2 separate regions of the Homo sapiens genome follow, and region 1 is linked to region 2. The links come from fine-mapping of genetic effects on gene expression. A gene starts in region 2. The other region holds a variant in brackets. All regions are shown on one strand. Distances are from middle to middle. Region 1 overlaps MORN1 (MORN repeat containing 1). Region 2 holds the start of TTC34 (tetratricopeptide repeat domain 34).

Region 1 (2,896 bases), 460 kb before region 2:
AGGCTGGCCTTGCCCTTCTGTCCCGGTCCCCACACCACCTCGGTCTGGTGGCTCCTCCCGACGGAGCCTCTCCCAGCCCTGCTGTGTCCCACCTGTTGCCTGCTGCCCAGCTTCCCCTTTGTGGATCTGTCCCCAGCAGAGCACACTTCCCTGTCTTGTCCCCAGCGGTCCCCAACTGGTCCTGGGCATGCTGCTGACCGTGCGATGGCCAGGTGCCTGGCCGAGCCAACTTGCTGGTCACAGTGTACCTGCCCCCCAACATCACCCCCTTCCTGGGCATCACCCTGCTCATGCCCCCGTCTGCAAACTTGCTCCCATTAGGCCAAACCACTGAAAAGAAAAGGCTAAAAGGGGCCGGGCGTGGTGGCTCATGCCTGTCCCAGCACTTCGGGAGGCCAAAGCAGGCGGATCAGGAGGTCAGGAGATTGAGATCATCCTGGCCAACATAGTGAAACCCCGTCTCTACTAAAAATACAAAAATTAGCCAGGTGTGGTGGCAGGTGCCTGTAATCCCAGCTACTCGGGAGGCTGAGGCACGAGAATCGCTTGAACACGGGAGGCAGAGGTTACTGTGAGCCAAGATCGCTCCATTGCACTCCAGCCTGGCCACAGAGCGAGACTCCGTCTCAAGAAAAAAAAAAAAAAAAAAGAAAAAGAAAAGGCTAAAAGTCTGATGGCAAGTGCCCCCCAAAGGCATTAAACTCAGAAAAGCCGAGGTGCAGAGACACCTTCGGACAGCGCAGCGCCCACCGTCAGTGGAGATCCTCTCTTCCCCGTCTGAGTGGTGCCCGCCAGCCCGAGTGGGCCTCACTCCAAGGCTCAGGGAGACACATTCTGTGATGGATGTGTCAGCTCATCAAACTCTGGGCTCCACGGGCCCCAGAGGAACCATTCGTGATGGAGAGTGAGGGTCCCCGGCAGTGTCTGGGGCACTTCCCGAGCCAAGGCCATGCTTGTCACCTCCTGGCAGGCATGCCCCTCCCCAGCTCTCAGGAGTGCCTTCCAAGCCTTTATGCCAGTTTTAATGACATCAGTTACAGCTTTATAAGCAAGATAAAGGTCACCGTACGACCTCGGGGGCCTCGGGAACCGAGAGGCTGAGCCAGCCCGGGACGGGATCGGGCAGCTTGACCGCTCTGGAGGGAAATTCCAATTCATTATCTTTTTACGGCGGACTCAATTAGACTCCCTAGTCACCTGTGTAGGGCACCAGGCAGCAGGCAGGGATGCTGCCCGAATCAACAAGGCTGCTCGGGCCAGGCCAGCCCCAAGAATAGCCGCGGCAGGCGCAGGACCTGGCCAGGGGGAGGGCAGGCCGAAGCAGAAACGTTGACTTCGTTTAAGTGGATTAAAAACATAAAACGTTATTGGCCCTAAGGGGACGAGAACAGTCTCGTTTGGAGG[T/C]GACCAGACACAGGGCATTAGTCTTTAAGAGTCCATCAGTCAGCCGAGAAGCGCGGCTCATTAGAGACGCAGGGTGGGGCCTGGAGAAGTCAGCGGGAACACGCGGGGGCACACAAGACACATGGGGGGCCTCTCGGACTCCCCTGCTGTCCCCAGCCCCGGGCTTCGTCCTCACCTCCCTCACCCTTCTCACCTCCCACACCGCAGACATGGCTCTGCTGACCCAAGCCACCCAAGATCCACGAGGAGGTGTAGGCTGGGCCAGCACTGTGCCTGGCCTCCCTCAGCAGAGCCAGCATGGGCCCTAGCACTGTCACCGAGAAGGGACCTGGGCTGGCCTTTCCTTTGCCTTTTTAAATATTTTATTTTATTTTATATTTTATTTTATTTTATTTTATTTTATTTATTTTATTTTATTTTATTTTATTTTATTTTATTTTATTTTATTTTAATCATAGAGATGGGGCCTCCCTTTGTGGCCCAGGCTGGCCTTGAACTCCTGAGTTCAAGCAATCCTCCCGCCTCAGCCTCCCAAAGTGCTGGGATCACGGGCGTGGCCCCGCGCCAGCTCCCCTGCCTTTCCTGAGGCATAGAAAATGCGCTTGACCCTAAGCCTCCATCTCCAGTAGCCTCCATCCTTCCTGAACGTTCAGAAAATAAAAGACACTCCAGAGCTCCTGGGGCCTGGGCCGTCGTGGCTGCTCCTGCGTATTTGGCAAGCATGATGCTGACGTTTCTCCACTGCTGCCTTCAGACCTGCCTCTGGGACCTGCGGGCACCTCTGCTGGTAAAGCTGCCAAGACAGGACTGCTCTGGGCTCTCTCCGTGCCCGCCCGCTCCTCGCCTCCAGGAGCCCCCCACAAAGCTGTCTGTGTAGCTGCCAGAGCCGCTGGGCCCTGTGACAGAGCCGCCGGGCCCTGGGGATGACGCTGCGGGGCACCAGCCCTGCCGGGGCCAGGCGGGTGCCGTTCCAGCCAGGCGGGTGTGGGGCAGGCCCCTCATCTTGCTCCTGATCCTCTGGGGGTGCTGTGCTGAGCAGCAGTGGCCCCTCGAGGACTGAGACTCGGGCCTGGGGGCCTGGCCAAGGTCCGGGGCTCCCTGCGGCTGCTGTCCTCAGGGTTCTCCTCACCTCCACTGCATTCCCACGAGCTGTTCTGAAGCTTTCCTGGGGAGGACAGGCCAGGAGCCACCCTGCCACAGCTGTCCTGGGCTCTCAGATAGACAGAGGCCTCGCGGAGCCTTGGAAGCAGCTTCACAGGGTGGCAGGAGGACGCACAGCCGCAGAGGCCAGCTTTCCCGGGGACTGGCTGCCTCCCCAGGCTTCTAAACACCATGGCACCCGCCTCTGGCTTGGGGTTTGGACTTCTTTTAGCAAAACGATGAACAATCCACGGCCCCATTCTTCCGGAAGAGAATGGAGGAAACCGTGGTCCCATGTCTGCTGGGCGGGATTCCCGTAGGCCTCCCCTGCTGCCAGCTGTGGGGGTGACTG
Region 2 (2,896 bases):
TCAAACCTGCCGCTGTGGAGCAGAGCTTCAGGTGACAGGGTGTCACTCCGGGTGCCCCTGGGGTCCAGAGCCGCCAGGAGTCGCTGGCCACCGGTCTCCTGCTGGCCGGCACTGTGCCCAGCCTCCGGGTGCCCCGAGAGGTAGTCCTGGAGGGCACTGAGCAGCGCGGGGAGGTGGGGCCGCTGGTGGGTGCGAATGAAAGCTACCGTCCGGTCGGCGCTGGAGGCGAAGGCCTGGAGATAGGCGGCCACACCATCCGCTGCCTGCACCCCGGACAGGACCCAGGCGAGGGCGCGGGTCAGCCGCAGCTCCAGGACTTGCTGTGCATGAGAGTCCAGCAGGGCGCTGCAGCGTTGCACCACTTCTTCGTGACGCCCGCGGGCCAGCAGACCTGCCAGCAGGTGCAGGATGGCGGCGGGGTGGTCCGGGCAGAGGGCGCCGAGGAAGGCAGAGGCCAGCGACCCTGTCAGGGAGACCACTGCCATGCCGTCCCAGTGGATGGCGGGGATCTGGCTGTCCCCGCGGCACCAGGACTCCAGGGTGGCCACCACCGCCGCCCCCCGAGCCTGGGCCAGGGCAGTGCGCACACTCTGCAGGGCTGAGGGGGCGTGGCAGCTGAATGCAGCCAGGTAGAAGGCGGTGGCCAGGGGCAGCTCCCCCAGCGCCAGATGCTGCTCCCCCTCCCGGCAGAGGCAGGCCACGAGCTCCTGGGCTGACATCATGTCTGGGACCCCGACGGGCCCATGTCTGGTCCTCAGAGTACCTGGGGGTGGGGGAGCATGGTGAGTCCACAGAGGGCGGCCAGTTCTCCTGCCCTGTGGCCACCCGTGCCCAGCCTCAAGCCACCTCCACCCCTTCCCATTGACCCCACGGTCAGTGCAGACCCCACTGGGTGAAAACTGGGGGGATCCTGGGCTGGTGGGGTGGGGCCTACCAGGTGTCCCAGGCCAACTTCCAGCCCACTGTTCACCTCTGGGGCCTCAGTTTCGTGCCTTGCAGAATGGGACAGTGGCCTCCCCCAGCTCAGTTCCCTCTAAGAACATCTGACCCCTGAGTGTCCATGTCGGGAGGGTTACGGTGGCCCGAGGTGTCAGGGCCCAGCAATAGGAACCCCGGACCCACCCTCTGCCCCTCCCAACCCTGAGCCCCTCAGGAAGGCACACCCCCCGTCAGTCCAGGCAGCCCTCTCAGTGGGACGCAGGACCACACCCCTGCCCACCCTCTCACACCTGGGCCATTCGAGGGGGGCGCCGAGAGCACCTGCCAGGCCCTTGGGTCGGGGGAGCCACCCCAGCCCATGGGTGGGGGGGTTCAGTTTTGAGGTTGAGGTTCCAGGGACAGCCCCTGGTACTCCCCTATTCCCTGTCCCCAAGCTACTTGACCTGACGAACTAGCTCCGCACAGCCCTTTCTTCCCTCATCAAACAGGCAGCCCCCAGCATCCGCTCTCAGACACACACAGACACACTCACACTCGTCTGCAGCTTGGAGGCTGAGCCGGCTGTGCCCTGGGGACCCAGATTCCCTCGTGGGTGGTGGGGGACAGAGGGATGTGGCTGGCTGGAGGGCCCAGGCCTGGGTGGGGCTCCTATGACCGCCCCGTGTGGGTTGGGGAAGGCACAGCCTGCGGTTTCCCGGGAGAGTGTCAACACCCTTGGGTCTCCTGGCTGTCCTGCAGCGCCCCGCTGTGGCCAGAGGCTACCAGGCCGAGGTCCCACCCACACTGCCCCAGCCAGGCTCCAATGGGCTGCCTCAGAGCAGAGAACCCTGAGTTCATGGGGGTGTTGGGGGAGAAGGGGCCTGTGGGGTACAGCCCCCCATAGCCGGGGCCAGCCTCCACCCTGCCTGCTCTGCCAGGGTGCCCCCAGCCTCCTCTCCACATAGATGAGGAGGGCGCTTCCTGGAGGCAGGTGGGGGCCGCCTGCCCACCCAGTGCACTCAGGCTCTGGGTTTGTCCCCCAGAACTCCGCCTGGGCTGCTATGCGGGCCCCTCACCGCCCAGCCTCACTCCTCTTCTGGCAGGGCCCTGTCACCCGGTCCTGGGGCACCTCCCCACAGGCTGTTCCCTGTGCCGGCAGCTGGGACTGGACCTTCCGTGCACAGCCAGCCCATTTCCCTTGGCCGTCCTCCCTCTGAGAGGCTTAGGCAGCCCTGTCCTGCCTGCACCAGCTGAGCCAGCTGTGCCCTGGGGAGGGCAGGGCACATTAGCCGAGGGCACACCCCTCCCCCATCACAGGGTTGAGGCCCAGAGGCAGCTCTGGGAGCCATGACCTGAGCCTACTGCCCAGGGACCCTGATTGTTGCTGAGGAAGGGGTGGCAGCATAGGGACTATTTTAGGAAACATCACCTTCAGCCCGTGGCCACCGTCAGCCCATGCCGCAGGAGCAGAAAGACTGAGTGGGGTGGCTGGAGGCAGGCTCAGGTCCCTGAAGCTGAGACCCCACCACCGGCAGCTGCCCTGGAGGGCAGGCATGAGTGGGGGGAATGGGGGTGGTGCGTCCCTGAGAGAGGTCCCTCCCAATTCAGGATGCCAAGGTGCCCGGACACCAGGCCAATGCTGGCTCCTCTGTGGGGCTCAGGGAAGCAGGGTTGGGGGTGCCCTTTGGGGGAGGAGATCTTGGGAGTGGGGGGTGGCATCCCTGATCCCCTCGATGTCTGGGTCTCCTGAGACATGCCCCGCAGGCCCTTTGGGGAGGGTGTGGAGCCCCTGCAGCGTGGGCAGAGCAGTCAGGGTCAGTCTGAGGGTGCAGGGCAGGGGGGTCAGCAGGGCTGGGGCTGCCTGGCCCAGTTCTTCAGCTCCATGACATTCACCAGGGCCCAAGGCCTGTGCGGGTAATGCAGTGGGGGCAGTTTATTAAGAGATTGCCCATTACTCGGTGTTGATTACTTTCATTTT

Evidence for each region. PIP is the estimated chance that this variant, and not a neighbour inherited with it, causes the effect.
Region 1: its variant is fine-mapped to the expression of TTC34 in aorta (GTEx, PIP 0.98).

The regions. Positions count from the first base shown.
Region 1 is chr1:2,341,062-2,343,957 of GRCh38, forward strand. The region is part of intron 10 of MORN1 (MORN repeat containing 1); the gene reads right to left. Among named protein-coding and RNA genes, the nearest start is that of MORN1, 49 kb to the right of the region's middle. The variant T/C (reference allele first, on the strand shown) is at 1,405.
Region 2 is chr1:2,800,106-2,803,001 of GRCh38, forward strand. It overlaps TTC34 (tetratricopeptide repeat domain 34), which reads right to left and starts at 1,588. Exons shown (of 9, transcript NM_001242672.3): 1 at 1,472-1,588; 2 at 1-763. The coding sequence starts at 722.